Homo sapiens: one gene and its partners. The protein of the gene in region 3 purifies or fractionates together with the protein of the main gene of each other region. This does not show direct contact. Each region holds a gene or a part of one and is shown on either strand. Other genes may lie near its edges.

What was found.
Region 1: the proteins of VPS41 (region 3) and LSG1 purify together in Homo sapiens (co-immunoprecipitation; one large-scale study listed by IntAct). This does not show direct contact.
Region 2: the proteins of VPS41 (region 3) and VPS33B purify together in Homo sapiens (affinity purification with western blotting; 2 studies listed by BioGRID and IntAct, with this or other methods). This does not show direct contact.
Region 4: the proteins of VPS41 (region 3) and RBM25 purify together in Homo sapiens (affinity purification with mass spectrometry; one large-scale study listed by BioGRID and IntAct). This does not show direct contact.
Region 5: the proteins of VPS41 (region 3) and XRCC4 fractionate together in Homo sapiens (co-fractionation; one large-scale study listed by BioGRID). This does not show direct contact.

The regions. Positions count from the first base shown.
Region 1 is NC_000003.12:194,649,827-194,656,418, reverse strand, and holds part of LSG1 (large subunit GTPase 1 homolog), read left to right. Parts: intron 1-3,276; coding exon 3,277-3,690; intron 3,691-5,202; coding exon 5,203-5,304; intron 5,305-5,394; coding exon 5,395-5,538; intron 5,539-6,592. UniProt on the Homo sapiens protein: Functions as a GTPase. May act by mediating the release of NMD3 from the 60S ribosomal subunit after export into the cytoplasm during the 60S ribosomal subunit maturation.
Region 2 is NC_000015.10:91,005,093-91,009,405, reverse strand, and holds part of VPS33B (vacuolar protein sorting-associated protein 33B), read left to right. Parts: intron 1-429; coding exon of another isoform or gene 430-502; intron 503-1,441; coding exon 1,442-1,536; intron 1,537-1,832; coding exon 1,833-1,937; intron 1,938-2,359; coding exon 2,360-2,456; intron 2,457-2,676; coding exon 2,677-2,754; intron 2,755-2,960; coding exon 2,961-3,034; intron 3,035-3,346; coding exon 3,347-3,433; intron 3,434-3,621; coding exon 3,622-3,712; intron 3,713-3,951; coding exon 3,952-4,026; intron 4,027-4,124; coding exon of another isoform or gene 4,125-4,180; exon of another isoform or gene 4,181-4,286; coding exon 4,287-4,313. UniProt on the Homo sapiens protein: May play a role in vesicle-mediated protein trafficking to lysosomal compartments and in membrane docking/fusion reactions of late endosomes/lysosomes.
Region 3 is NC_000007.14:38,727,278-38,733,869, forward strand, and holds part of VPS41 (vacuolar protein sorting-associated protein 41 homolog), read right to left. Parts: intron 1,515-6,592; coding exon 1,415-1,514; intron 1,310-1,414; coding exon 1,265-1,309; intron 1,158-1,264; exon of another isoform or gene 1,064-1,157; intron 1-1,063. UniProt on the Homo sapiens protein: Plays a role in vesicle-mediated protein trafficking to lysosomal compartments including the endocytic membrane transport and autophagic pathways. Acts as a component of the HOPS endosomal tethering complex.
Region 4 is NC_000014.9:73,098,160-73,104,751, forward strand, and holds part of RBM25 (RNA-binding protein 25), read left to right. Parts: intron 1-1,220; coding exon 1,221-1,274; intron 1,275-1,507; coding exon 1,508-1,591; intron 1,592-5,032; coding exon 5,033-5,319; intron 5,320-6,592. UniProt on the Homo sapiens protein: RNA-binding protein that acts as a regulator of alternative pre-mRNA splicing. Involved in apoptotic cell death through the regulation of the apoptotic factor BCL2L1 isoform expression.
Region 5 is NC_000005.10:83,107,144-83,113,735, reverse strand, and holds part of XRCC4 (DNA repair protein XRCC4), read right to left. Parts: intron 2,709-6,592; coding exon 2,533-2,708; intron 1-2,532.

The DNA of each region.
Region 1 (6,592 bases), on a different chromosome or scaffold from region 3:
GATGGCCAGTGATGATGAGCATTTTTTCACATGTTTTTTGGCTGCATAAATGTCTTCTTTTGAGAAGTGTCTGTTCATATCCTTCACCCGCTTTTTGATGGGGTTGTTTTTTTCTTGTAAATTTGTTGGAGTTCTTTGTAGATTCTGGATATTAGCCCTTTGTCAGATGAGTAGGTTGCAAAAATTTTCTCCCATTCTGTAGGTTGCCTGTTCACTCTGATGGTGGTTTCTTTTGCTGTGCAGAAGCTCTTTAGTTTAATTAGATCCCATTTGTCAATTTTGGCTTTTGTTGCCATTGCTTTTGGTGTTTTAGACATGAAGTCCTTGCCCATGCCTGTGTCCTGAATGGTATTGCCTAGGTTTTCTTCTAGGGTTTTTATGGTTTTAGGTCTAACATGTAAGTCTTTAATCCATCGTGAATTAATTTTTGTGTAAGGTGTAAGGGAGGGATCCAGTTTCAGCTTTCTACATATGGCTAGCCAGTTTTCCCAGCACCATATATTAAATAGGGAATCCTTTCCCCATTGCTTGTTTTTGTCAGGTTTGTCAAAGATCAGATAATTGTAGATGTGTGGCATTATTTCTGAGGGCTCTGTTCTGTTCCATTGGTCTATATCTCTGTTTTGGTACCAGTACCATGCTGTTTTGGTTACTGTAGCCTTGTAGTATAGTTTGAAGTCAGGTAGCGTGATGCCTCCAGCTTTGTTCTTTTGGCTTAGGATTGACTTATGCCAAGCGTTTTTATGTGAATATAGATATATTCACAAGAATATACCAATAATAATTATTACTATAATTAAAACTAACCCATAAAATTAATCAGTTAATAAAAACATATTCTTTACCAGACACCACTATTCTAAACACTTTACATATTTTACTCATTTAGTCTTCTCGGCAGTAAGTATAGATACTTACCATTCTTAGGCAGAAGAATAGTTTGCCCTGTTAAACCATTATTTCTATTGTTTCCAGTCTTTCCTGGAAGTCAATGTCTTGGTGAAGTTTTAAAATAGATACTTATCATTATATTGCTCTGCCCTGATGCAATAACCCTATCAAAAATGGAAGAGATTAGTTTCTGCATCTGTGGCCTTCTTGATTTACTAACCAAGATAACAAAGGGAAATGAAATTTTTTGCATGATCAGTTTTCAGGGAACTCACTGCCTCCTGTTGATGACTGTCTTATTTTTAGGGCTCACCAGGTCACCTGTAGAATTGTTTTAATGTCAGTGTCTGGATTAACAGTGTATAGTTTATGGAAGATATTCTTTCCTCCTTTTTAAGAGTGAGGCGCCATTTGCTTCTCCCAAGTTTTCTGGACTCTGCTGTTTTCCATGATTTCTCAGGTTGTGAAGTCTTACTTGTAACTTGATACTAATATCTGTAATTTGGGTATCAAACATGAATGTATTAGAAGTAGCCTGATATTCACTGTTTTCTTGCCTGGAAGTTTGGGTCATCTTCTATAGTTGTTCAACTTCAGTTGTTTGAAAAACGTGAATGTTCTGAAAAAATGTGACATTTTTCAAAAGACACAGGCCAATTCTGAGTTGAGTATCTCTGGTTTCCTTTGGTCACCTTGAAAGTGCACTGTGTTCCCCGAAAGCTTGACTTTTTCCTTCTTTCTTTTAATTTTTAACATAATTACGGCAAAGTCCTTTGATTGTCTTTAGTACTTTTCCTGAAGCTGAACTGCTCCCCGCTGTAGTTTTTCTACTACACATTCATGTTCAGTTCACATTCTTGTTTTTATGCTACTTTCATATTTGAAAATGACTCAAAAGAGCCCACAGTGACGACACTGACTTCTTTACCTTCGCTGCTCATTTACCATAGAAATTGCTTCCAGTTCTATATTTCTCTCATAAGCCAGGGTTCTTTTTGAGTTGCCAGGCTTGATTGTTAAATCATACCTATTTTTCCTGACATTTTGTTTTTATTTCTGCTTTCTTAAGATTTAGGATACATGTTTGAGTTCATCGTGTCCCCTTCTGTGACTGTTAATCATTCTAACAAAGCTACTTGGAAATGATACCAGGTTTCCATCACTTTCAAGTCCCGACAAATTCACCCTTATTTCTGCTTTGTTGTCAAGAGGGATTCAGAAGAATTAACACACCCTTGAGTAGAAAATGATTTGTACCTTTCACTTTCCAAAGGGAATCTTTCATCAGTAAATAATTTCCACATGTGGAGTTGAGTTTTGCTGCCACATTTCACACACAGGGATCTGTGTGTGCTCCATGGTGCTTTGACTTCTAAAAGCAATTATGAGAGAAGAGCAGATTTCTTTAAACATGCCAACCACCGTCTTTAAAAATACAAATGTAAAATGAACTGCAAATGGCAAAGTCTGCCCTTGCTTTGTGCAGAGAGGAGTATGTTAAATGTGTTGTTGTTCCTGAGAAATGCTTTGTTTTATCATGCAGCCCATTGCAAAATAACGTACTGTCAAGAGTTCAGTTTAACATAAGCTTTTCCCCTTGCTGTCTTTGAAGAGTTTTGTTGTTGTTGTTGTGGTGGTGGTTTTCTGTTTGTTTTTGTAGACACCCAGTCTTGCTGTGTTGCCCAGACTGGTTTTGAATTCCTGGCCTTGAGCGATCCTCCCACCTCCGCCACCCAAGCGCTGGGATTACAGGCGTGAGCCGTAGCACCCGGCCTAGAGTTATTTTAAATTACAAAAGTAATACATGTTCTTTGTACAGAGTTCAAATAGTACAGAAACATATAAAGTAAAAAGTGAAGGGAAGGTCCAATTCTCCCCTCCAGGAGGGCGCCACCCTCGATGGTTGTCTGTCACGGCACTGAACTGAAAGGCTTTCGTTGTCTCCTCCCTGTGTTCACCTTTCCATCTCCGTCGAACTTTGCTTGTCCCCTGTTCATCTTTTTTTTTTTTTTGTGAGACAGAGCCTTGTCTGTTGCCCAGACTGGAGTGCAGTGGCACCATCTCGGCTCACTGCACCCTCCGCCTCTCAGGTTCAAGCAGTTCTCCTGCTTCAGCCTCCCAAGTAGCTGGGATTACAGGTGTGCACCACCACGCCTGGCTAATTTTTGTATTTTTAGTAGAGGCGGGGTTTCACCATGTTGGTCAGCGTGGTCTCAAACTCCTGACCTCAAATGATCTGCGCACCTTGGCCTCCCAAAGTGCTGGGATTACAGGCTTGAGCCACCACGCCCAGCCATCCTCTGTCCATCTTACAACTCATTAAGTATTTTTACTAGAGTGGAAACTGCAGTTATATACTTCTGAGCGTTTCTATTATTTTGTCAGGAAGAGGCAAACAGAGATGATAGACAAAGCAACACAACCAAGTTTGGACATTCCAGTTTCGACCAGGCTGAAATTTCCCACAGTGAATCCGAACATCTCCCAGCTAGGGATTCTCCTTCACTTAGTGAAAATCCCACAACGGATGAAGATGACAGTGAGTATGAGGACTGTCCAGAGGAGGAGGAAGACGACTGGCAGACGTGCTCAGAAGAAGACGGTCCCAAGGAAGAGGACTGCAGCCAGGACTGGAAGGAAAGCTCTACTGCAGATTCTGAGGCTCGGAGCAGGAAAACCCCACAGAAGAGGCAGATACACAATTTTAGCCATCTGGTATCCAAGCAGGAGTTACTGGAGCTCTTTAAGGAGCTACACACTGGGAGAAAGGTGAAAGATGGGCAACTTACGGTCGGACTGGTAAGATGACATATGTCATAACATTGTTACCACGTGATTGTCTTTAATCCCCATTTTTCAGTAGCTGCACGACCCCAAAGACCAACCAGGCTTCCGGCATCGTAGGGAACATTGCCCTCTTGTTGCCCACTGGCATCACGGGATTAGGCAGTGGGATAGACAGAGCCCAACTCAAAGGAATCAACTTCCTCAAGGCCTGTGTTGGTAACATACCTATTCACATTGAATGTATTCTCCAGTCTCCTTTCAGTTCAGCTTTTCCTGCCGTGTGAAGTACCAAGACAGCAGAATGAGAGAGATGTTAATGTTGTCTTCAGACTTCAGCCCAGTGTTCTTTGGGCACCCTGTGATCCTTGCCAGCTTATGCTGTAAATGTTCCAGATGCTTAATAGGGAGAATCCCAGCATCTTGGGGCTGGACGAAATATGACAAATGCATTAGTTGCATAAACACTGCATAGTAGATAGGGGAAAGCAGATCCCATCCCCAGCCTTACATACCCTAATTCCAGAAGTGGCTGCGGAAGTGCGCAAACCCCGAGGGGCTACGACATGGCTCTAGATGGCCCCATCCTTAGCTAAGGAGATGTGAGATGTTAGAGAAGGTATTGATTATAAAGACCTATCCAGAATATAACAGTGAGGGAAAGGAGGTCATGGCATGTTTAAAGTCTCCCAGCTTTTCAGTTACATGCTAAGTGTAGCTAATCCTAGTTAGTTTTGAGCCCCCTTCTCTCTGCCCCAACCCCCTGCCCCAAAATGCCTGTTTAAAATGACTACAGTAGATTAGCATCTTATTTTAGTGCAGTAGTTAAAAGAGCTGTCTGTGGAATCAGACAGACCTAGGTGTAATTCCCAATTCAGCAGTAGAACTAACTTGTTAGGAACACGGGGAAAGTTGCTTAATGTCTCTGAGCTTTAAAGCTTCATTCTCTATATTGTTGCTAAAAATTTGTATCAGAAAGTTCAGCTTCTCTACAAGTTTTCTCACATTTATGGAAAAACTGAGCATCCTCCCTCATTTTCTGAATTTCTTACTCTAGAAATTCTGCAGACACTTATTGATCACCTGCCACATGCCAGACATTCCACTTGGCTTTAACTAAAACGTGACTGAAAATTAAAAATAATTGTGTGTTGTGATTATTCAAATGTCCATCCGATCAGCCTCACCCAGTGTGGAAGATGCGATGGAAACCACTGTCTGTAGATGGGGCAGTGAGGGAAGGCTGGGAACAAGGGGATGAAATTTTCTGTAGCATCTGCTGTTAACAGCAAAACATATAATATTAAAATGTGCATAACTTGGCCATTTGTCACTGGAGATGTGTCTGAATAAATATACCCACACCACAGGAGAAAAAAGATGTCTCAACAAACACAGCATGGATTTCAAATAATTTTCTAAAGTAACCAGATGCTTATGCTAGTCTTGCCACCATCTATGTCATATCTTTGAGTCTTTTGATAGATGTACTGTTTTACTGTTTGGTAACTTCTGAGTCTCTTCTAGGTGGGCTACCCTAATGTTGGTAAGAGTTCAACAATCAACACCATCATGGGCAACAAGAAAGTATCTGTGTCTGCCACACCTGGTCACACAAAGCACTTTCAGGTATTTCTGTGGTGCTTTGCCACTTGCATGCAGCTCTTTCTTCCTTTTATCTGTTGTATACCCAGCTCAAACCTCTTGCTTGTCTTCCAGACTCTCTATGTGGAGCCTGGCCTCTGCCTGTGTGACTGTCCTGGCTTGGTGATGCCATCTTTTGTGTCTACCAAGGCAGAAATGACTTGCAGCGGAATCCTCCCAATTGATCAGATGAGAGATCATGTTCCTCCTGTATCACTAATATCCTTTCTGCTTTGGAAACACTCTAGTTATTACGTGCATATTAGGGCTTCAGGTTTATTTTGGGCATTTGAGGGATTCAGATTTGATGAAGAATTGAAAATACTAGTGATCTGCACAAGTTTATACTGTGAGATAGCATGAGAACTTCAGAATAGAACCTCATTTCCTGATTTCAGCAGTGTAGCCTTGAAGAAATGGGAGAATCCAGGTTTCAGATACTCAGTTCCAAGTTGCAAACCTATTTAACAATGCCATGTAACCGTTTGAATGACCTTGGAAAACTTGCTTAACCTTCCCAAATACTTTCCTTTTCTCTAAGTGGGGGAAAATCTATCTCACGGTTGATTATATTTAATCAGTATAGCTAACATATATTGAATACTTGCTATGTGCTTTTCTAAACCCTTACCAAATACCTTTTAGTCCTCAAAAAGCAACGCTTAAGGCAGATACTGCTGTTATTCCCATTTCCTCAAACTTGAGGAAACTGAGGCACAGAGAAGTTAAATAATTTATCTAAGCTCTTATAGCTAGTAAGCAGTAAATTAGGAACTCTGCTACCTCTCAGCAGCATAATGAATTAACTTACATAAAGCATCTAGGACAGTGCCCAGCATGGAAAAAAGACTCAAAGATGGATTTGTTAAGAACTATGCAGGGGCCAGGTGTGGTGGTTCATGCCTGTAACCCCAACACTTTGGGAGGCTGTGGCAGGCGGATCACTTAAGGCCAGGTTTTGAGACCAGCCTGGCCAACATGGCGAAACCCTGTCTCTACTAAAAATACAAAAATTAGCTGGGCGTGGTGGTGCACACCTGTAGTCCCAGCTACTCGGGAGGCTGAGGCACGATAATCTCTTGAACCTGGGAGGCGGAGGTTGCAGTGAGCTGAGATGGTGCCACTGCCCTCCAGCCTGGGCCACAAAGCGAGACTCTTGCCTTTAAGAAAAAAGAAAATGAAAGAAAAAAAAAACTGCAAGGTCTGAGATTTTACTCTACTTATAAGCTAATAAGTTAGTCTATTATTGTTTTGTAGATACTAGCAGAAAATA
Region 2 (4,313 bases), on a different chromosome or scaffold from region 3:
GAACCCGGGAGGCAGAGGTTGCAGTGAGCCGAGATCACGCCATTGCACTCCAGCCTGGGCAACAAGAGTGAGACTCAGAGAAAGGAAGGAAGGAAGAAAGAAAGAGAGAGAGAAAGAAAATAAAAGAAAAGAGAGAAAGAGAGAGAGGGAGGGAGGGAAAAGAAAGGATAAGAAAAGAACACTCCTGGGGTAGTATGAAAGGAACACCAGGGCTTAGAGTTGGAAATGACCAGCCACTCTTTTCTCACCTTCCAAGGCTCCCACAGGAAAAACTGGGCCTCCCCTCTGTGTATTCCTCCGCTATTCTCCACACAACCCAAACCTGATCACAGCCCTCCCTGCTGGAAATAGCAGCGGCTCAATATAAAGCCCAGAATCCCCAACATGCCTCCTATCCCTTGCACAGTCTGGCCCCTCCTGTCCCATTAGCCTCATCGTGTGCTGCTTCCTTCTCCTGACTCGCCACCCTCCAGCCAGAGAGACTTTACCCATGCTTTTCCAGGTACCCAGAACGTTCTCCACCCTATAGCTTTTTGCCTTCCCGAGTCTTACCCAAATTCTAAGCTTGATTTTCTCTTCTTGAGGGAAGTCTTTCCTATACCCCCAGTTGTGGTTACATCCCTTTAATATATGTGCTCACAGCTTGCTGTTTGACCTCTTTGGAGCACAACCGTGATTTAATAGTTTGTGTCATAATTTGTCTGGTGTGTCTCCCTCACTAGACTGTAAGCTCCAGAAGGTTGGGAGCATGTCCATTTTGCTCACTGCTGTATCTCTGGTGTTCATACAGTCCTACATGTAGGCAGCTTTCAGTAAATATATGCTGAATAATGAATGAGTGAGCTGGGCGTGGTGGCTCACACCTGTAATCCCAGCACTTTGAGAGGCCAAGGCAGGCAGATCACCAGAGGTCAGAAGTTTGAGACAAGCCTGGCCAACATGGCAAAACCCCGTCTCTGCCAAAAATACAAAAATTAGCTGGGCATGGTGGCGTGCACCTGTAATCCCAGCTACTTGGGAGGCTGAGGCAGGAGAATTGCTTGAACCCAGGAGGCGGAGGTTGCAGTGAGCCGAGACTGCACCATTGCACTCCAGCCTGGATGAAAATTGCTAAACTCCATCTCTAAATAAATAAATAAATAATGAATGAATGAATGTTTTCTCGGCACTTTTGGTCAGCCCTCTAGTAAAAACCCACCACTTATCACATTGTATTACAGGCTGCTGTGGACACATCTCCTTTCCTTATCAGACTGTGAGCTCCTTAAGGGCAGGGACTGTGTCTTATTCTTCTTTGAGCCTCCATTGCTTAATGCAGTACTGGCATGTGGCAGGCACTCATATATTTGTTGCACGCACTCAAATATTTGTGGCGGACCTTCCCTCTTAACGTGGAGCTAAGTACCTTCTGCAGGGAGGCTGATGCTCTCTGTCCCCACAGATGTGAGCTGTGATGAATGGGCCTTCTCTTTGCTGCCTCTTGATGTGGATCTGCTGAGCATGGAACTACCAGAATTTTTCAGGGATTACTTTCTGGTAAATGCAGAGGCCCTTGTGTCTTGGCATCAGGGGATGGGGACAAATGTGGGATGCAGAGGGCTAGAAATACCAATATAACCTTTGTCCAACGCAAGTAATTTATCACAAGTGATAGTGATGTGGTGATTGAGTGCTACAGATTGGTCTCTGTGGGACTTCCTGTGGAGCCAATGAAAACCTTTCAAGCATCCCCCAGGCCCTGCCACCCTGCTCCAGGGCTTCTAGGGCTAGCCACTTTCCAGGTGGTCCTACTGGGTTGATTCATATCTTTGTGGCTTGTGTGGTCCCTGCAGGAAGGAGATCAGCGTTGGATCAACACTGTAGCTCAGGCCTTACACCTTCTCAGCACTCTCTATGGACCCTTTCCAAACTGCTATGGAATTGGCAGGTGCGCCAAGGTAAGAGCACTAGCAGTACTGTTGTCCCAGCAGACGCTGTTTTCCCTGTTCTGTACCCTCCTGGGGTTATCCAAGGGCACCTGTGATATGAGGTGTATTCTTTACTTTGCTTTCATTGTTCTGGAATAGATCCTCAGAGAGGAGAACTTGTGTGGCTAACAGAGAAGCAAAAGCCAGGATCTCCTGGGTAGCATTCCTAAATCTCTTTTTATTTTGGGGACAGAGTAACACATCTTCTCATCAGTAGGAAGAGTGTTGGGGAAAGATAGACACAGACGGGAGTAGATAGGGCCATATTGTGAATAATTAGCTCCTGTCTCGGGGACAAGAGGAAGTATCACGTGGAAAGGGCTGACTTCTGTAGGTATGGGGCTGCAGTAGGGACCTGGACACAAGACTGAGAATGTCTTGGGCCCTGGCAGATGGCATATGAATTGTGGAGGAACCTGGAGGAGGAGGAGGATGGCGAAACCAAGGGCCGAAGGCCAGAGATTGGACATATCTTTCTCTTGGACAGAGGTAAATTATGCCCAGCGTTCCTGTCATCTTTCAGCCCTAGAAGACACGGGAATATGGAAGGCGTGGTGGCAAAGTTAAAATCCTAAAGTTAGGGCTGTGAATCCCAGCTTTGAGGAGCGTGGGTCCTTGGCCCTATGGAAAGTATCAAAGCTGCCCTTGGACATGCTGTGTAGAAGGCTGGGTCAGGGAGAACCTTCATGGTCAGGGATCTCTGTTTCAGATGTGGACTTTGTGACAGCACTTTGCTCCCAAGTGGTTTATGAGGGCCTAGTAGATGACACCTTCCGCATCAAGTGTGGTAAGTGCTATGGTCCTCTGCATCTTGGCAAGATGGACGGGTCATCAGCCTTGGCACCTCCCACGTGGGGCAGGGTTTGTGGGAGAGACCCAGACCCTGAATGAACTGCTGGCTTCCAAATAGTTTGAGGACCTTTATGGCAGTTCAGGGAATGGTAGGAGAAGTCCTCATTGGAGATCCTAATAGCTGTCCCTCTGCTCTCAAAGGGAGTGTCGACTTTGGCCCAGAAGTCACATCCTCTGACAAGAGCCTGAAGGTGCTACTCAATGCCGAGGACAAGGTGAGGGTGTGGGTGCTAGCAATGGGCCCACCTAGGGCCACTGCTTATACCAGGCTGTGGGCCCCCTGCTTATACCAGGCTGTGGGCCCCAGCTCTGAGAGGGGAGGCTGAGTCTATGGGAGAGAGGGTTTCCCCACCAGTTCAGAGCATCTCCTAGAACACGGTGTAGGCATTTGATATGGACTTACAGATCCCAGCTCAGCTTTCTTTGTATTTCTGCCAGAACACCTGAGTACCCTTCCTGTACTGTCATTCTACTGCTAAGTTATGGTTCTGACAGAGTAAGCTGTTCTTGTCTTACTGTCCTCACAGGTGTTTAATGAGATTCGGAACGAGCACTTCTCCAATGTCTTTGGCTTCTTGAGCCAGAAGGCCCGGAACTTGCAGGCCCAGTATGATGTGAGGCTCCAAGCCCTGCTCCTCTGTTTTGTTGCCTCAGTGGCTTCCCAAGGCTGCTGCCCTTGGGCTCCCCTTCTAATACTATGACAGGTTCCCTGTCCTTTCTCATGGATGGATGGCAACTGAGGGAGGGTGGTGGTTTCTCGTGTCTGAGGTTGGGGGGTTCACCTTTGGGAATTTTCCCACAGCGCCGGAGAGGCATGGACATTAAGCAGATGAAGAATTTCGTGTCCCAGGAGCTCAAGGGCCTGAAACAGGAGCACCGCCTGCTGAGTCTCCGTAGGTTTCAGCTTGAGGGGCGTGAGGGGAAGTGACTGTGTCCCTCTGGGGAAAGCTCCAGAGGACCATTACTCCCGAGGAGGAGATCCCTGTTCATCTGATGCATATGGTCTTACTTGGTGTAAAGTGGGAAGAAGTGCTTTCGGATTTTGCCTTAGGAGGTTTTTTATTCTTCCGGACAATAAAGGGACATCTTTCTAGAACCAGGAGTATGTCAGCTCCCTTTGTCCAACCTGCAGATATTGGGGCCTGTGAATCCATCATGAAGAAGAAAACCAAGCAGGATTTCCAGGAGCTAATCAAGACTGAGCATGGTAACTGCCGCAGCCTTGCTGTGCTACTGCCCACGCTTCTACTTCCCCAGCTCCCAGCCCCGTCCCACCCTTAAAAGATGTTCTCTGGCTCTTTCCAGCTGACACTGGCTATGTGGAATGCTGGTTCCTGCTAGAAGTCCTGGGGGTCCCTTAACCCACCCCAAGGATGGAGAAAGAGATGGGGAGACAGACACCTGTTAGCATAGATGGCAGCAGCTGAGCTGGCCCCCAGTAACAGGCTCTCCTCTGATTACTCACAGCACTGCTAGAGGGGTTCAACATCCGGG
Region 3 (6,592 bases):
CCCCTAACCCCTATAATCATTATACACCACAGCTGAAGTTGAGTCTGTGGCTTCATAAAAATGCTTTGCCAGTCCACCTGCTACCTTTGCCAAGACCACACACTGACTCAGAGGCGGACCTGGGTTACAAGCCCAGGCTGTGGTGACCTTGCATTTTACTGCACTTGTGCTTGGGCAGATCCCCTCATCTGTTCCTGCTCTGTGTGGCCAGCTTATTTTTGGTAAGATTTAGTGTCATCAGCAGAGTAAATTTGGAGTTAAATCTAACTGTAGAGTGGGAATGTATGTGGTTCCTTTTTGCTGCAACACTGTCTGAAATGCTATGGAAGCTCACTTCTTCACCTGAGCCCATGCAGTTTTCAACAGAAGCACTTAAACATCCAAATCTAATTCCTCTAGAAAAGAACCTAAGTAGAACAACTTCTCATGGACTGCCCCATGAAATAATCCTTTAATCCTAAGTAAACATGAGGTCAACTAGGTCTTTTAGTACTTTGTTATGCTGAACTTATATTTGAAAAGCATTTGTTAGCATCCTAACAATGCTTTGTTAGTTTCCGCTTTTGAATTATGCAAATTTCTTCTGTCATAATAAACCTTAAGAAGGTGCTTTTCATTACAGATGAAGACATATATCTATCTGCCAAGAACTAGAAATAAACAAATGCTTATGTCTTTTAAAGACTCACAGTTCCAATTAGATGGCAGGGATTATGTATGTTTCCACTGAAATGTGAGATGACTTGGGCATGTAGAACCATATATCAGAGAAAAACACTAAAGAAAAGGGAATGCTACCTATAAATTTTTTTTCCCAGACATGTATATGGTTCTTCTACCTTGAAATTTAAATGCTGATGGTTAGTTTTCATTTTGTTTTTACCCTAGACTAGCAGTTCTAAAAGAAGGGCCCCTGAACCAGTGGCATCAACATTACCTGGGAACTTGTTAGAAATATACATTCTCAGTTCCTGCCCTGGAAGTTTGGAACCAGAGACTCTAGGGAGTCTGACTGGGTCAGCGATCTGGGTTCCAATAAGCCTGCCAGGTGACGATGACTCACCCTAGAGCTTGAGAACCTCAGCTCTAAGCAATGGCAGCACCAGCATTCCACTGAGCAGGATGGAAGCCACAACACTTCTCTCCACTGGGTTATTCTGAAAGTTATATAGTTTTATAAACGGTAGTTGGCTAATTCCAAAATTTTGATTCCACTCATCATTAAAATACATGTTTGGGATTTTTTTGGGGAAAACCTTCTTACCTGATGGAAGAATAGGGGAAAGGCACGACTCACAGATGTTCTCCTCTGTAAGAAAACACACATACTTTGGATTATGCCCTGTTTATACCTGCTTGGCCATTTCTGAAAGCAGGGCACGTGGTTCCATATGATTATTTCAATTTTACCCACCATCAACAAGAACACCTTTCATTTGAGTTCGGTGCATTTTCTTCAGTAAGGACAAAGAGTCAGCTACGAGAATCTTCTTGCAGCCTTCACGAAGCAGAATCTAATGCATACATTTTAAAAGAAAAGCCATCTTAAGTAGACTCAAATCTGAGGGGTGAAGGGACACTGTACTGGGGATTCCAAAAGCTGGCATGCTTGAAATACTCAAAAGGGGCACTCACTGATTCTCTTGCCCTCAGTACCCTCTTCCTGCCAAACCACTGCCAGGCTGACCTGGCCAGCCAGGATCCACTCATTACTCTGTGCGTCATTTCATCATTTCTTCCAACCATACACGGGCTCCTGTAGCATTTGTATAATCAAACATAAATTCCAAAGTCTGGCAAAGAAGGCCCTATATTAACTAACCCTATTGCTACTTTAGAGGGCTTCCTTATACAGATCCTCTTGGGCAGACTTTGGCTCCTACATCATGTGTTCATTCCATTCTTCAGATCTTTACCCAGAATGAAAACCTGCTATTCCAAAATCATCAATTTATTTCATAAATTAATCTATTTACTGCACAAATAAGTACTGGGTCCCTATCACGTATAGGGTACTGGGTATAGATAATAAACTAAACAGATACAATCTCTGTCTTAAATCCCCTTGAGGATGCAACCTATCTTTTTCTTTCCAAATCTAATCCAAACCATTCAGCATAGTGCTATGAATGTGGTGTGTGTGTGTGTGTGGTATTAACTGACTATAATAACCTTCAAATTTGGTGACTCCTGGGAGGGGTTTGAAAAATGACCATGAATACAAATATTCTCTCATAAGAGTCCTTTTCTTTATTCTTCATCCCAGCATTATAGCTTTTGTTTCTTTACACATTTTTCTTATTCCCCTGCAGGCTTTTTACTATTTCCTCCCTTCCTGCCTGGAGAATGACAAGAGACATCACAATGCTTTGGCAGCCTCAGAAGTCAGAAGCACACAGTGGAGGATGATGCCCATTTCTGGCTGGTACCAATGTTGTATTTCAGAACTGGAGGCACGATGGGGTCCAAGATCCTCCCCTGCTTTTAGGTGGGGACACAGCAGGGACAGGCGACACTTTACCTTTCATGTCCATTCTGTGGGGCACAGTGTGAGCTCCCACCCTTTGCTGGGTTTTCTTAGGTATTAGTAGGAAACTGAGAGGCTCCAGGAGGTGTGCATAAGCCAGATGTCATTTCATTTATTATTATTATTTTTTTTTAACCAGAACTTGTTGCTGCTTTTTCAGAGGGAGAAACTCAAGGCCTGAAGGACAGAGACGCTCTGGGGCTGTGCCTGTGGCTTCTCCCTTTGGGCCCTATGTGTCTTATCATACGCAGTTATGTGCAGTTACACATGTCACATCATAGAAGTTCACATTAACAGACAGCGCTGTCTCACCACAGCCCAGCTCTGAGGCTGAGAAGCATGTGTCTTTCACGGGCAAGTGCCACTGTTTAGAGGGGGCACTTTGGCTTTCTTCATACTGAAGTCACTCTCGACTTGACAAGCTAGATGGGCATTTTGCTTTCATAAGTTTTAAATTCATGCCACTGGGGAAGAAAAGTAAGGGAGCAGCCAACTGCAGCCCTCTATCCTCAGTGGTCCACGTGTTCCTCTGAAAATCCCAAAGAGCACTGGCTTTGGGTGAATCCAGCCGAAAGCCTTTTTCCCCTAATTATACAAAGACAAATTAATATTCAGGAAAACAAAACTAATGTCTAGATTAAAGTTCTATGCCTGCCATTTCTAGTATTGATGAACAGGAAATTACATGATTTTAGTATTCCTACATTAATTGAGAAACTGCCTATGAAGTTTTATTCTTTAAAATTCTACCAGGAATCAATTTTTTTTGGATTTTTAAAAAAATACATTAAAATTTTAACAGACTGCATTAAAACATACAGGTAGAAGAGAAAAATAACAAATACAGTAAGAAAGATAGCTAAGAAATATGGATGTCAGGAAACTTTAAATAAATTTAAAAGCAAACATATAAAGCTGCTTAGCCTCCAAGACAAAAATAAAAAACTTAAGAGTAATGGTTTCAACCACAACATCTCAGATAAAACAATTTTAAAAAATGGCTCTGACTCTCGTGGGTGCTCCAGGCCCATGGCATGAATTATATAAGAGAAAGGCAGGGCCAGCAGTCTAGACAGAGGCCACTGTGTCTACAAGCTAAAAAAGAAAACAGCAAAATATGCAAACCAGGAAGGAGCCATATCCTCAGCAGGATTACATTTTTCTAAACAGGTACAATCTGTCCGCCTGCAGATAGCATTTTCTAGGAAAATTCATTATTCAGAGGCAAACAGCCAGGAGAGGGGAAAGTACACAAATACAGCTTACTGCTATCTCCTACTTCATTTGGTCAAAATTCAAGGCTCCCAATCAGAAAAACAGGAAAACATTTTAAGTTTCATTTATATGATCCCAGGCAGGTATTTCAAAATATGAGACTATCCTCTATAGAATGTAATCATTTATTCTATAACATCTGTAATAATGTGTAGGCAATTAAAGGTGATAAGTGAAGGAAGACAGTACAAGATTATAATGTACTACAATCTACAGGTATTGCTTTCAACATCAGACATAGGACAAGGCATTATGTTGACTATGGATTCCTAGTAGCAACTCCATCAGTGACTCATGAAAAATGTGCTGTTGTTCACATTCATTTCACCCTCAAAAATTCATACTTGCAATTTCCCATGAGTGTCTTTTTTATAAAGACACTGATGGCCAAAAGTCAGATGCCACAGCAGTTGGCGTAAGCAGGTCATCCTCACCTCTTTTTGACCTTCACACTCATGATTTTGGATGACTGCTATGTTTCAAGGTCATCTTACCCAGCCTATCTTCGCAACCACAGACTATCATCACCTTCCCCATCTCCCTTCTAACTTGCAAATGTGATGTTCTTTACATACTTAGGGCACATGCACACTCTTCTGTTACTCAGGTTTCGATGACCAGAATGGCACTGAGCACTGCTGCTCTTGATCTGAGCACTATCTTTCATTATTTTGTGCTATTTTTCTTTTTAAAATATGAAATATTAAAAAAAAACTGAAAACAAAAAAAGACCCAGTCCCTACCACCTAGATTTAACAAATCTGTTGATATTTTCCCACGTGCTTCAGATCTCATTCCAGAAAATAAAGTATTACAGACACAGCTGACACTTTCTTGCCCTCTACCATTCCTGCTCCTTCTTTTCAAACACAACTCCAACTTCATTTAGTGTGTGTCCAGCTGAAATATACAGCTGGCTGGGGCTCATGTAACATAGATCTGGTCAACAAGATAAACATCAAGCCTGGGAAAGCAGCCCTTTCAAATCAAAAAGCAAAGCCTCATTAGGAAAAAACCCCTTGCTTCCCGCATGTGCCATATGAAGTGTGGATGTAAAGCCTAGTGATACGGCATCTACTTTGTCACCAAGAGGCAACAACCCTGAGGTACACTCTCCTGTTAATGCATGCTGAGGTTATGTCCAGTTTAGGGCTACTAAGGAAATCCAAAGGACATTCTTGTACAGATCTTTTTATGGAACTGATTTTCATCTCTTGAGTAAATACCTAGGAGTGAAATTCCTGGGTCATGGAGTAGGTGTATGTTTAATTTTTCAAGTAAATGACAAACAGTTTTCCAAAGTGGTTATATAGCATTTTATACTCCCACATATTAAGTTGGATATCTAATAAAAATATCTTCCCTCTTGAATAATAATCTTACTCTTAATTTTTATGTTAAGAGTTAGGACCAGTTTATTAATTTCCATGAAAAATTCTTTGGATATTTTGATTAAAATTTTATTGAACATACAGATGATTATTTTAGGGAGAACTAATAACATTTATGATATGGATGTACTTTTAACAATTAAATAAATGGTCAAGTTCAATTTGCTATTGATTTATGTATTATTTTTGCATTTGTGTTTTTAAAAAAAAGATAGGGCTATAATTTTCTCATACTGCCCTCACGTAATGCTGGTATTAGGGTTACACTAGCATTCCATAAGGAACTGAGGAACTTTTCCATTCAATTATCTGGAAAAGTAAATGTAACACAGAAGCTGCTTTTTATTTAGTTTTATTATTTTTAATTAATTTTTTTTGACAAGGTCTTGCTCTGCCACCCAGGCTGAAGTACAGTAGCATGATCAGAACTCACTGCAGCCTTGACCTCCTGCACTTAAGTGATCCTCCTGCCTCAGCCTCCCATGTAGCTGGGACCACAGGCATGAGCCATCACGCCCAGCTAATTTATGTATTTTTAGTACAGACAGGTTTTCACCATGTTGCTCAGGCTTATCTCAAACTGCTGAGCTCAAGCCATCCGTTCACCTCAGCCTCCCAAAGTGACGAGATTACAGGCATGAACCACCGTATCCAGCCAGCTATTTTTTAAAAGGATAAAACTTGTCTCTAAAACTGTCTATGGAATAAGTGCCTTTATTGTAGCTATACATTTTGACTACCAATGTAATTTAGTTAATGATTATAGGTCTATTCTATTTGCTTGAGTAAACTTTTACAACTTATTATTTTCCTAGAAAATTGTACAGTTCTTCTGAGTTTTCGAAGATATTGATATAAACTCGTATTCTTTGTTTATTTCAGGTGTTGAAAACTTAGTCTGCAAGGACTTTGTTTTTTACGGTTATGCTGGTTGTTTCCCCGTGCCTTTTTCTTAAACTTTATGGAATTTGCAAATACATTTTGTGATGTTTCCTGAAGGTTTATAGACTACAGAAGCTTATAAGCATGCAGTTTTGAAGATTATGTCCTCCTTCACACCAAAAGTAGTTTTTGTTTTCCAAAGTATGTCTAACTGGCCTTTCAAAGATCAATCATTTTTAACCCACTAAAAACTTTCTCACCTGTTTCCTCCTGTTTTACCCTGGTTTCTTATTCTCTGTGTTGGACAGCCTCTGATATCACTTTCAGAACTTAAAACTAGTTTGAAACATCTCTATGAAATATCTCTACTTGGTAAATTAAACAGCACCATTATTAACCTTTGCTTTGTAACCTATGTCTCTTATTAGAGTATCACTGACAATCGGATGGTTGTGGTAGCTCACACTTATAATCCCAGCACTTTGAGAGGCTGTGATAGGAGGATCTCTTGAGCCCA
Region 4 (6,592 bases), on a different chromosome or scaffold from region 3:
TGCTCTGTCACACAGACTGGAGGATGGTGGCGCAATTACGGCTCACTGCAGCCTTGAATACCCATCCTAAAGTGATCCTCATGTGTTAGCCTCCTGAGAAGCTGAGACTATAGGCATGTGCTACCATACCCAGCTAATTTTTGTATTTTTTGTAGAGACAGGGTTTCACCATGTTGCCCAAGCTGGTGTTGAACTCCTGAGCTCAAATGATCTGCCTGCCTCAGCCTTCCAAAGTGCTGGGACTACAAGTGTGAATCACTCATAGCTGGCTCAACGTGTTTTATATGCATGCATTATGTAATAAAAAAGTACTACGTGGTATATATATTATGATTAGTTATGAATGGATGGTTACATTTTATATTATTTTAAATTTCAGTGCCTTTTTAGGCCATATTCAGTTTTCTTTGTGGCCAGATACATACATTTTTATTATTTGGTATGTGTTTCCTCGTTTGGTCATAGAACTTTTCTTTTTTGTTCCCGCCCCTACCCCCACCCAAGACGGAGTCTCACTCACTTGCCCAGGCTGGAGTGCAGCAGCTGCGATCTCAGCTCACTGCAAGCTCTGCCTCCCGGGTTCAAGCGATTCTCCTGCCTCAGCCTCCTGAGTAGCTGGGACTACACGTGCCTGCTGCCACGCCCAGCTACTTTTTTGTATTTTTAATAGAGATGGGTTTCACTGTGTTAGCCAGGATGGTCTCGATCTGCTGACCTCGTGATCCGCGTGAGCCACCGTGCCCGACCCATAACTTTTCTAAGGAGGTGTATTCTGTTAGGAATGGTAATTGGTAGGGTCAGTAAGGTACAGGGTAATTGAGGCCTGTAGAATTCATTCTTCCTCTTTCTTCATTAGTGGGAAAGGAGAAAAATAACATATTTGTTTGATGTGGATTGGGAGGAGATAATAAATTCTTCCTCTGTGGCAGGAGTTATGGGTAAATATTGTTGGTATGATTAGAAAGCCCTGCTACTATGAGAGCACCTTCTATATTTCCATTTCTTGGGGGTGTTGGAGTATCCAGAGAGGAGGGTAGTGTGTGATCAGTTATTGTAAAAAGAGTGAAATCACTTCTATTCCCAAGTAATTTGAAATCAAGAAAGCATCACAGAAGTGTACTGTATTGTTCACGTCATAAATGTATAGGGCATTGCTTTGCAGATTAGTATGAGCTCTGTTTTTCTTTTTTAAAAAAGATTCTTGGTGGATTTTTTCACAGATTTTCCGCAGATTTCCAGTGGCCCCACTGATCCCTTATCCACTCATCACTAAGGTTAGTTTAAATTGTAGGCTTTGACAATACCTGTGTTTACTGCTGATTGTTGATTTGTCATTCTTGTCTATCTGATTTTTCACTATTTAACTTTAGATTGTTAGATTTGTTATTGTGGATATTCTGTTTACTTATTTACTCTTTGAGACCTATACAGAATATCTAACCTTTAACTGTTTATATTGAAGTAGGGTGTTCTTTATTCATTCCCTCCTGTGCCCGTTTTCTTTTAGGAGGATATAAATGCTATAGAAATGGAAGAAGACAAAAGAGACCTGATATCTCGAGAGATCAGCAAATTCAGAGACACACATAAGGTAGTATTCTTGTCTTTTCACTTGATACCAATCTAGACTTTTTACAGAATCCAAAGCAAAGAGACAAAAAAAATCAACCTTAAATTAGAATATAATTTTAAATGTTTTTTATAGGTTTAATTGATATTTAGATAGAAAAAAGAAACAGAAGACCAATACCATATTAAAGTGGTCCTTGACATGTTGTGCTTAGTTTTTTCAGTTACTGACTATTCTGCAGTCATCTCACTTTAATATGAATAGAAGCTAATTTTATTTTTAGATTTCAACATAAACATCAAGGTCAGACTTAAATTAGATTCAGGGGGCAGCAGGATAACATACACTGTAGTGTATTTCTGGGGGCAGTTATTTAACTTGATCTTAGGAATACCTTTTCTTTAGAGCTGAGATTAAAATTTACATTTTATATTTGTATAGATTTAAGTTGAGTGGGGGAGATTTTAAACAGTAGGTCAGTGGTTACCAGACTTACCAAATTTTAGATGCATGGAAGAACTGTAAATTCCCATAAAGCTAATCTATTCATTGACCCCCACCATTATGATAGAGATCATATGGTGACTAATGCAAGATGAAACTCTCAGCTTGGAAAGTAACAAGGAATAGGATGTAAGTATGAGCTTCTGTTTTTTATTATATTTATGGATGCCCCCTCAGAAAAATATGCAAAGGGGTAACTGGCTTGGAAATGGGTATTTATGCATAGTAAATCCCACTCACGAGTTTTGCCTATTTGAAGCTTCTCTCAATGACAGTGCATCTGTGAATGTTCGCTGGTGTTGAAAATGATGCTTTTGAACGGTGCAATGCAAACACTGCATGAAATGTATTTTGATGGTCGAGATAATAAGGTGTTGCTGGTTCTTACTGATAGACTGAGAGATCTTTAACTCAGTGAAATGTTAAATGTTCATTTTCTCTTTTATTCTTACTTTTTCCCATTGCTTTCAAAATCTGCAGTTCACAAATAATGCCAATGAATCAGTGCTGCTGAACACTTACTATCCAGATGCCCAGCCCTTGCTCACAAACACAATGCTTTTTCAAGAATTAAATGTGTCTAAGAGCACAAACATAATTCTCCCAAAATTAATTTTGAGAGTTGAAAAGGTGGTCTATGGGAAATCATTTTAGATGAATAATTTTGGTTAGGTATAATACTGAAATTCAGGACCGAGTAAGCTTAAAAATGGTATATGGTTGTGTGTGTGGTTTACCCCCTTTTTGTTTTTATTTATTTGTTAAACCCTGTCATGTTATTGGTAAATTATGAGGAAATCATGTTTTAAGAAAAATTCAAAAATATATTTGCTTTAAAGTTTGGGAATCTGTTAGGCATTTTACTGCCTTAGTATTATTTCACTGGAGGGAATGTTTTGAATTTTCAGAATGTCTTTTCAAAATAAAAAGAAATCAAAATGAAAAACCAAAACAGTTGTTTTTTATTGGGTGGTTTGGCTAAAAGGGTTGTTTGAAACTCCAGTAACAAAAAATGAGCTCAGTGAACCTTTGCATGTTTTGGTATGAGTTTATTAAATAACCACAGACTGTCAGGGTATCAGCGTGGCAGGGGGCGTCCATTTACAGCACGGATGAGTCTGAAGAGAGAATAAGGTAAGATTTATGATTTTTTAATCTGTCCTTTCCTCTTCATGACTTTCTTACATAATTTTAGACTCACCTCATTTCCCTTCTCCAGTCTTTCTTTAAAAATATACATGTATGTTTACATGTATACCTGTATTTGTATACATGTGTGTATATATATATATATATATATCTCATATATAAACTTCAGGAAACATTTAGTATGGACTAGATTCACTCACTTTTTCATTTACTTAGAACCAAACTTTTGAAATGAGTTCTGAAACAAATGGTTATTTATATAACTGAATATAAGGAGCACAGTGAAATAAGCAAGAATTAAAAATTGAGGAATTCTACAGGAAAAATTAGTATTGGAACAGCTAAAATATTCTGTAAGTATCTATTTCAGAAATAAACAAATTTCTTTATAAGTGTATGCCATTGAGGTAAGTTTTATATAGTCTAGCCTCATTTTACAATATAAATTTTTATATTCATTGGAACTGTTTCAGAAATGAGATTTTTCCCCCTTTAATAGCTGTTAGTTTCTGTCCTCTTTCTATCATATCTTATTTCATCCCTTTGTAATTTCAATGTATTCAGTTTTGACTTTGCCCGTATTCTACTTCGATATAGACTGGCACAGCAACTGAATATATTGCTCATACATTAGCTTTCCTTTCATAACCTGCTATAAGTTCTCTGATCCATGAGGAAGAGAAAAAGAGTATCTGACAGGTAAGATTGCTTTTTAAAGTTGTTTTAAATGCATTACATGACTGAGAAAAGAAAAATGCACATTTTATTGTTGCAGTTTAAAATTTCATTTTGGTGAAACTAAACGTGAAACAAAAGGGATAAATGTGTTTTGTTTTGTTTTGTTTTACCTGTTTGGGGTATTTTTTTCTGAGTTTGTGTAGAAACCGTGTGGTACACTGGTAATCTTGTCAGGGTACAAACTTGGTCTGACTTTGTTATTTGGTTTATTTGTGAACCATGTACTTGCTCTTCCTCCCAGAAACATAGCTTGTAGGCAAGGTTAATCCAGTGTTGGCGATCCATGTCCTAGCACAGCATCTGTAAGTTAATGCACAATCGTTCCTTCCAAGGATGGATTTATCATTGTAAATATATTTTCATTGTCTTACAGGCATAATGGGCATAAGTATGTTGCTTTTAAATATTTTAAATTAAACTATTACAGTTACATATATTTTGCTTGAAGTGAGTGATTTTCAAACTTTTTGTATTTGGTGGGCTGTCCATCTTGTAATGGTGGGAGTAAATGTTTCCATAGATGATAAGGCAGTTCTTGGCTGAATTCAGCTTGTGTTTCTTTTGGAGGGTGGGCAAATCAGAGGGCAGAGATTATTTAGTTGCATTATAGGTATTCTTCTATACCACTTGCCCTTTGAAACCCTCAACTTGAGGTAATGTGCAGTCTGGGGTTTTAATTAGTATTAATAATCTTGTGGATTTACAGAAATCTATAATGCACAGAGTTGAGTTTTAACCAATGATCGTATTCATAGAAAATATTTCGAACCACCACATTCTTCATGGTCATTTTAGTTAGTACATAGTCATTGAGTGGCCAGCCACACCTGACACAATCTCCCAGCATCCAAGATTGGAGATTCCTGGTCTGTGTAGAGTATATGGTTTTGCACGAAATCTTTCTAGTCTTGTGATTGCTTCAGTTTAATTTGTCACATAAAACCACAAGTATTTAATATTAATGTATCAGTGGTTTGGTGTTTTTGTTCCCAGTACTGGGCTTTGCGCCGGGAAAAATCTGAATACTGGAGCTACAGAGTTAACTCTAAAAGTGCTTTTATTGGTTTCTAGAAACTGGAAGAAGAGAAAGGCAAAAAGGAAAAAGAAAGACAGGAAATTGAGAAAGAACGGAGAGAAAGAGAGAGGGAGCGTGAAAGGGAACGAGAAAGGCGAGAACGGGAACGAGAAAGGGAAAGAGAACGTGAACGAGAAAAGGAGAAAGAACGGGAGCGGGAACGAGAACGGGATAGGGACCGTGACCGGACAAAAGAGAGAGACCGAGATCGGGATCGAGAGAGAGATCGTGACCGGGATAGAGAAAGGAGCTCAGATCGTAATAAGGATCGCAGTCGATCAAGGTAAGGCTTTACAGAAGTTACTGTTTCCTGATAGCTTTAAGAAAACTATCGGGTAGTCCTCCAGAGTACCATTTGCATTCATGGAATGAGAACTTTTGTGTGTGTGTGAGACATTCTCACTCTGTCACTCAGCCTGGACTGCAGTGGCTGAGCAATCTCCGCCTCCTGGGTTCAAGTGATTCTCATTCCTCAGCCTCCCAAGTAGCTGGGATTACAGGTTCATACCACCATGCCCAGCTAATTTTTTGTATTTTTGGTAGAGATGGGGTTTTGCCATGTTAATCAGCCTGGTTTTGAACTCCTGGCCTCAAGTGATCCGCCTGCCTCAGCCTCCCTAAGTGCTGGGATTATAAGCGTGAGTCACTGTGCCCAGCCTGAGAATTTTTTTAGAGACAACATGGTCTTTGTCTGTCTGTCTGTCTGTCTGTCTCTCTCTCTCTCTCTCTCTCTCTCTCTCTCTCTCTCTCTCTCACACACACACACACACACACACACACACACACACACACACACACACTCTCTCTCTCTCTCTCTCTCTCACTATGGGTAAAAGTAATAATTTTCAACTCTGGTTAATTTCTGTCTGAAGCCACTTTTTATAGAAACACAGTGGCCACTCAATGTTCTGGGCAGACATGACTCCCTGCTGTCTCCTTGGGTCCGTGGGCATTTTTAAAGTTGCTCTTTTTGTTGAAGTTCTGTATACTGAGACATCAGCTCTAGCACCACGTCTTTTTAGCCCCTAGCATTTTTATTTGTTTTTGTAGCCCACTGCACTGCCATAGCTTAATCTTTCTGTCTATAAATTTACTATCTACCTCTACCTCTGGCTCCTAGTAATTTTACTCTTTGGAAGGTTTTATTTTTTATTTAAAATTTTTTAATTATATTGATTTTTTTTTTTTTCTGAGACAAGTTTTTGCTCTGTTGCCCAAGTTGGAGTGCAGTGGTACAGTGTTGGCTCATTGCAACCTTTGCCTCCCAGGCTTAAGCAATTCTGCTTCAGCCTCCCGAGTAACTGGGACTACAGGCACACACCACTGTCCCGGACTAATTTTTGTATTTTTTTTGTAGAGTCTAGGTTTTGCTATGTTGCCCAGCTGGTCTCGAACTCCTGAGCTCAGGTAATCTGCCTGCCTCAGCCTCCCAAAGTGCTGGGATTACAGGCGTGAGCCACCATGCCCGGCCTTATATTGAATTATTTTGATGAGTCATCTCACTGTTGAATAATGAGGTATAGCAAACATGAACAAAGGAAGAGGAGAAAGCAGCA
Region 5 (6,592 bases), on a different chromosome or scaffold from region 3:
AGAATGGCATGAACCCAGGAGGCGGAGCTTGCAGTGAGTGGAGATGGAGATCACGCCATTGCACTCCAACCTGGGTGACACAGCGAGACTCCGTCTCAAAAAAAAAAAAAAAGAAAGAAATGTTTGGATGTCCAGGCAGAAGTTTGCTGCAGGGGCAGGGCCCTCATGAAGAACCTCTGCTAGGGCAGTATAGAAGGGAAATGTGGGGTTGGAGCCCCTATACAGAGTCCCCACTGGGGCACTGCCTAGTGAAGCTATAAGATTAGGGCCACTTTCCTGCAGACCCCAGAATGGTAGATCCACCGACAGCTTGCACTGTGCCCCTGGGAAAGCCACAGACACTCAATGCCAGCCCATGAAAGCAGCCAGGAAGGGAGCTGTACCCTGCAAAGCCACAGGGGTGGAGCTGCTCAAGGTTGTGGGAGTCCGCCTCTTGCATTAGCATCACCTGGATGTGAGATATGGAGTCAAAGGAGATCATTTTGGAACTTTAAGGTTTCATGACTGCCCTATTGGATTTCGAACTTGCATGGCGCCTGTAGCCTCTTTGTTTTGGCCAATTTCTCCCATTTGAAATGGGTATGTTTACCCAATGCCTGTACCCTCATTGTATCTGGGAAGTAACTAACTTGTTTATGATTTTACAAGCTCATAGGTAGAAGGAACTTGCCTTGTCTCAGATGAGACTTTGGACTGTGGACTTGTGAGTTAATGCTGAAATGAGTTAAGACTCTGGGGGACTCTTGGGAAGGAATGATTGGTTTTGAAATGTGAGGACATGAGATTTGGGAGGGGCTGGGCGGAATGATATGGTTTGGCTGTGTCTCCACCCAAATCTCATCTTCAATTGTAGTTCTCATAATTCCCAAGTGTTATGAGAGGGACCCAGCGGGAGGTAACTGAATCCTGAATGAGGGGTCTTTCCTGTGTTGTTCTCATGATAGTGAATAAGTCTCATGAGATCTAATGATTTTATAAAGGGGAGTTCCCCTGCACATGTTCTTTTGCCTGCCACCATGTAAGATGTGACTTTGCTCCTCTTTTGCTTTCCACCATGATTGTGAGGCCTCCCCAGCCATATGGAACTGTGAGTCAATTAAATCTTTTTCCTTTATAAATTACCCAGCCTTGGGTATGTCTTTATTAGCAGTGTGAGAACAGATTAATATACATGCCAACTGTACCAAGCCCCGTCTTTTAGCATGTCAAAAATTTCAAAAGCCTTTCAGCCTTCTAAAATGTACCTCACTAATTTGGAATTTATTATGTATCAATATGTGTGAAACAGATAAAAACTAGAAAATCGCTGCACAAAATAATGCTAGTTGTTACATGCAAATGTTTAGTGAATGGGAAATGGCATTAATCCCAATTTGGCAATGATCTGCTTCAAAACATTAGAAGAGTCTGCACTTCTGTAACATATAATATCATCCGATTGAGCTTGGGCCACAGGAAAGAACACTTACAATAAATAACAAAATTGTAGTAGCTAGTTCCAACCTTCTTACTGAACCTATTTTAAATTACCATTTTAAGAAATTCAGCATATTGAAACTTATATAAATTGGCAGCTAATTAGAAAAAGTATGTTTATTTTAAATATAAATTACTAAGGGTAGTTTCTCTGCATTATTCCCTACACGATAATATAAATTTATAATGACTCCATTTGTTTCTACAAATGTTTATCTAATTAATGAAATCTCTTTAATTATTCCAAATTTAAAAGGTTGATTTAAAAGAATTTCCTAAACTCAGTTGAGCACTAAAACAAATTCTCAATACATTTCTGTTAACTTAATGTAGCAAACATTTCCTTCCCTCTCCTTCAGAAATGATAGATCTCATATATGACTGAAAACCACTGGTTAAAAAAACAAATTCAGTATCTATTAAACTTAGGTAAAATATACAAATAATTAGTGCCAGACTTTAATAAATAAACCACCTGCCTTGATCTGAATTGGTGCAGGAACTGAGCAGAATAAGTAGCAGATACTCTTGTTTGCAAAGCTTAGGCTTCAAGTTATTTCTATTTTAATATTTTTAAATCTGACAATATAAAGTATCCTTAATACTTACTATGCATTTTTCAATTTCAAATATACTCTAGTAAAGTAGAAAATAAGTCATAATTATTCTATATTCAAAGATATATTTTGATTGATTTTATTTCTTAAAATCAATATTTCACAAAACTTTTTTCAATAAGACCTGTCACGATGGCCTAAAACTTCTGATCTCACCTTTTTCAAGATTATTCTTTTGTATAATTAACTCTGTAATACTTTAAAATTTTTCAAGCATTAAAAACTAAACACATTTTCCAATATTTATTTTTCATGATTCATTAATATATTTAATGACTTTAGCTTTGAAGTATTCTTCTAATTTGGAAACCAAGTACTTTTCAAGCTTTTGCTTCTGAGGTGTTCTGGGAATAATATAGTAGTCACTTAAATTTAAATATAATTCCTCAATAAATGCTCTGACATTTTACTATGTAACATTTTGGAAAGTTTTACTTACTGAGACATCTTTCAGGTTTTTCTCAAAGAAGAAATAACAAGACTCTTTAGAAAAATTAAACGTGTATACATCAGCTGGTCCTGCTCCTGACAACAATGCTTTTCTCAGTTCACCAACATATTTCCCTTTTTCCATTGCCATGTCATCAGCTTCTTGGGAAATCTCTGATTCAGAAACTATGGGAAATATTAACAAAAGTTTTAAAATGAAAAGTAAATGACTACACATGAGAAAATATTAGTTTATCTGTTAGTACTAATTTATCACATGTAACAGAAATTCAAACAAGTAAAATCAATCCCTATACTACACATTTTTAAATCAAATTATTCCTTTTTACTGAACTAGCAATTTTTGAGAAATGCATTAATTTAGACTCACATCTCGTAAAATACATTAAACCCTTGACATTCTTTCTCTGTCTTCAGATGAAACGCATTGTAAATTATTACAGAAACTCCCACTTTGTGTAACTGCTCTTAGGTCAAAGCCAGATAATTTCCTACAATGAATAATAAGTTCAGTATTTTATAACATCTTTCTTCCTTGCATCAAAGATTCAATAGCCTATACTGTGTTTCTCACTCATATGGGCAGAGTAAAACAAAAGCAAAAGTGGAGCTCACTATTCTCATATCATGTGCCAACAACAGAAAATATGGATGAAAGGAGATGATAAGGAAATAATAGGAAGGAAACTAAAATGTACGAGCATCTCCTCTGCAACACATACTATACTAGAGACCGCTTCCAATTCTCTTATCTAGGTATTTTTAAAGCTGATGTTTTACTATCATTGAGATTTTTGTTTCAATAATTATATTTTCAATTCTAGATATTATCTTTGTTCCTTTGTCATTATATCCTGTTCTTATCCTACCCTTCTTTTAAATATTTAAATAAACGTATTTTAAGATCTCTTTCATTTCTGTATTTATGTGTGGCTCCTGGGGTATAAATTATGTTTCTTCTATCTGTGGAAAAATTCTTGTTTTACTTGTTTTCCTTTCATGCTTTGTAACATTTGAGTACAGCTCACCTCTAGCCAAAGTGGCAAGTGCTCTGGGAAGAAGTGGTCTTAAATGAAGGTTGCCTTTCTGGGGGTCATTACAAGTTTTATCAGTTTGGGACTAGTTTTGAAAGTTAATTTCTCACCTCGATTTTTACATTTGAGGCAAAGTGTTCCATTTTAAACCTCCCATCCACACATAACACAGGTTTAGGGTTCTGATTTTTCTTGAGACTTTTATTCACTCATAGTCCTTAGGGATTGTTCTGTTTTTATGCTGCATCCTCTGGACAGAGAGTAGTAGTTTTTTTAAAAGATTATTTTATTAACAGCATATATTTTCCAGGTTCCTTTCTTTATGCTGAGAGCTCAACTCCAATTCCCTAAGAGGTCTGAAGCCTCAACATTCTACCTCACTCAAACATTATACTCACTGTCATCTAGAAGTATATCTAGTTCAGATATTCCATGAATCTACAAGTAAGCTTTAATTCTCATCAATTACTTTGGTTTTGAAATACCTCTTCAAACATGGTGTCTGAGGTTTTCCCTTTCTTACACTCAAAAGTGGCAATGGGTCTGCATACTTGTTTGTTTTTAAAATTACAAGATTCAATCTCGTTATTTGTTGGAATGTGTGTGTGGTTGGATGGTTTCCTGTGTTAATTTAGGCTATCACAGTAATGATAAAAGTCTCATATGGTTGTATAATTTCATACTTATGCATTACACTTATCTATTTTAATTCCTTATAAAACTGAAAAACAGATATTATTTTCATTTTGCAAAAGAGAAAACTGAGGCTCACAGAGATCAAGTAATGGTCTAGGGTGATGAAGTAAGTAACTAGTGAAGCTGGGATTAATACTCATATCTCTCTGCATGTTTTATTTTGAGGTGAAGCAGAGACATGAAACATTGGATAAATTATTTCCATCCATAATTTTGAAAAACAACATTAGTATAAAATATTACAGAATATAAGGAAATCATGATTAAAGAATCCCTAAAATGGAACACACATTTTCATACCTTTGGTCTCTATGCTATCAAGTGTCTGGAAGACCCATGACAGTTAATGAAAAAGGGAGTCTTGCAAGGTACCAATATTTTTATATGATCAATTTTTGATAACAAGTTTTGATAATAAAATATGATTCTCATACGTCACACAACCTTTGGAAGGAGGTAAGAATAAAAATAGCTTATATTCATATATTAACAGCTTCTAAAACACTTTCACATTTTCTCTATTGGAAGTGGACACATTTAATATGATCATCACTATCAAACCTATTGATCTTTCAAATGCCCTAGTAGCTCTTCTAAAAAAAAAAAAAGAAGAAGATAAATGCTTCCTATTTAAGGAATAATTTCATATTTTGTGTTTGCATTATGTTAAAAAGTAACTATCTAACTTTAACTCACCAATACCTAGGAAGAACAGTTATTTCACAGAGAAATAGGAAATAAATTTGTAGATGCCATCTTTAATGCGGCCATAGAAAAACTTGAAGAAAACACAAAAGAAAACAGAGAACATCTATTTAAAAAGCATCTAGTTAAAAGTATTCTAAATTTCATTAAAATGAAAAGATACCTGTCTGAAAATATGTAATCATTCATTCATTCCAAAAATGCTAGCCTGTGGAGCTCAAATTCAAGTGCTAATATCTTAGACAACATTTTAGATATCTGTCAGTTATCATCCTAGATATCCTCTTATTTTCCTCTCCTAATAAATACTGTGCTGATTATTACGGAATATTTAATTTTTGAAGGAGAAAAAAACGTATGAAAGGAAATTAATTATGTAAAACAGCTATTTGTTCAAAAATGTACTTGAAAAATTCCTATAAAAGTAAACATGGAAATCTGACTGCCTACATAGGGCTTCAATCCTAAAAAACCAACCTGGTCACCAGTTTTGAATTCTGTGCCAAGAACATCTGGAAAAAGTATAGCTGTAAGCACGCGATGCTCTAAAACTTCAGTGACCAAGAATAAAGGCAATGGAAATAATAAAATTCAGCAAGAATGCAACTGAACCACATAATAAGGCATAAAACATGAGCAGCCCAACATGACCAAAAAACAAGGAACTGGTAGAAGTCAGACTGAGACTCACTTTAACACTGAAAAGCATCACTTTTGCAGTGTTTATAGGTAGATGAAGATGTAAGTGAGGAAAGAAGATTTTTTTCCTTCAGATACCTATATATAACTAGCCAAAAGCCTGCACACATCCTAAGCTTGTACTGGAGCTCAGAAGACATACAGTCTTATCATACCATTAGGATTCTAGTTGGTATTGCATCATAAACCCATTTCACTGCTTGATTTATTAAAATCCTCTTTCCACTGAGTTCTGTCACTATTTCCATATAAGTCAAAAAATATTTACACTCAAGATAATTATAAGTGGATCTAATTAGTGGATAATAGAACAATTAGTAAAGTTTAATTTACTCTTTAATAAACTTCAAACTACTCCAGAGATGGGTGATATAAGTTTCCTACTGCCAATAGGAATTCTTATGAAAGTCAGAGTCATCGATCATTAACCCACTTTGTGACTTACCCCTGTGATATAACCGCCTGTAATACTGATGTGATGATAGACCACATGATAATTAGATAATTGGACCTCAAAAACATTCATTAGATAAAACATTGCTAATGGAAATCAGTGAGTTTAGTGTAGGGGAGATTAAAAGAAAACTTACATCCTTTTAATTTCACTCAAATAAAAAGAGAAAAAAAATTGTCCAAATTGAAGGTTGCAGTAATCAAAATGTTGAACAAAAAAAAACAGGATGAGGTATCGGAAGGAAATCCGTTTCCATGTTTCAATTATTTAATTGTTTCAATGTCCTTAGTGATGTTATTGTCTACATGTAAAGTACCAGATCACATTTATGGAATAAGCCTTAACTAAACATGGGCACAGTGTTATATTATTTGATTTCCTATTTTGTCCCTGATATGTAAACAAGAAAACAGAAATGAATGAAGGCATAAAACACATGAGAGATTTAAACACTATTAGAT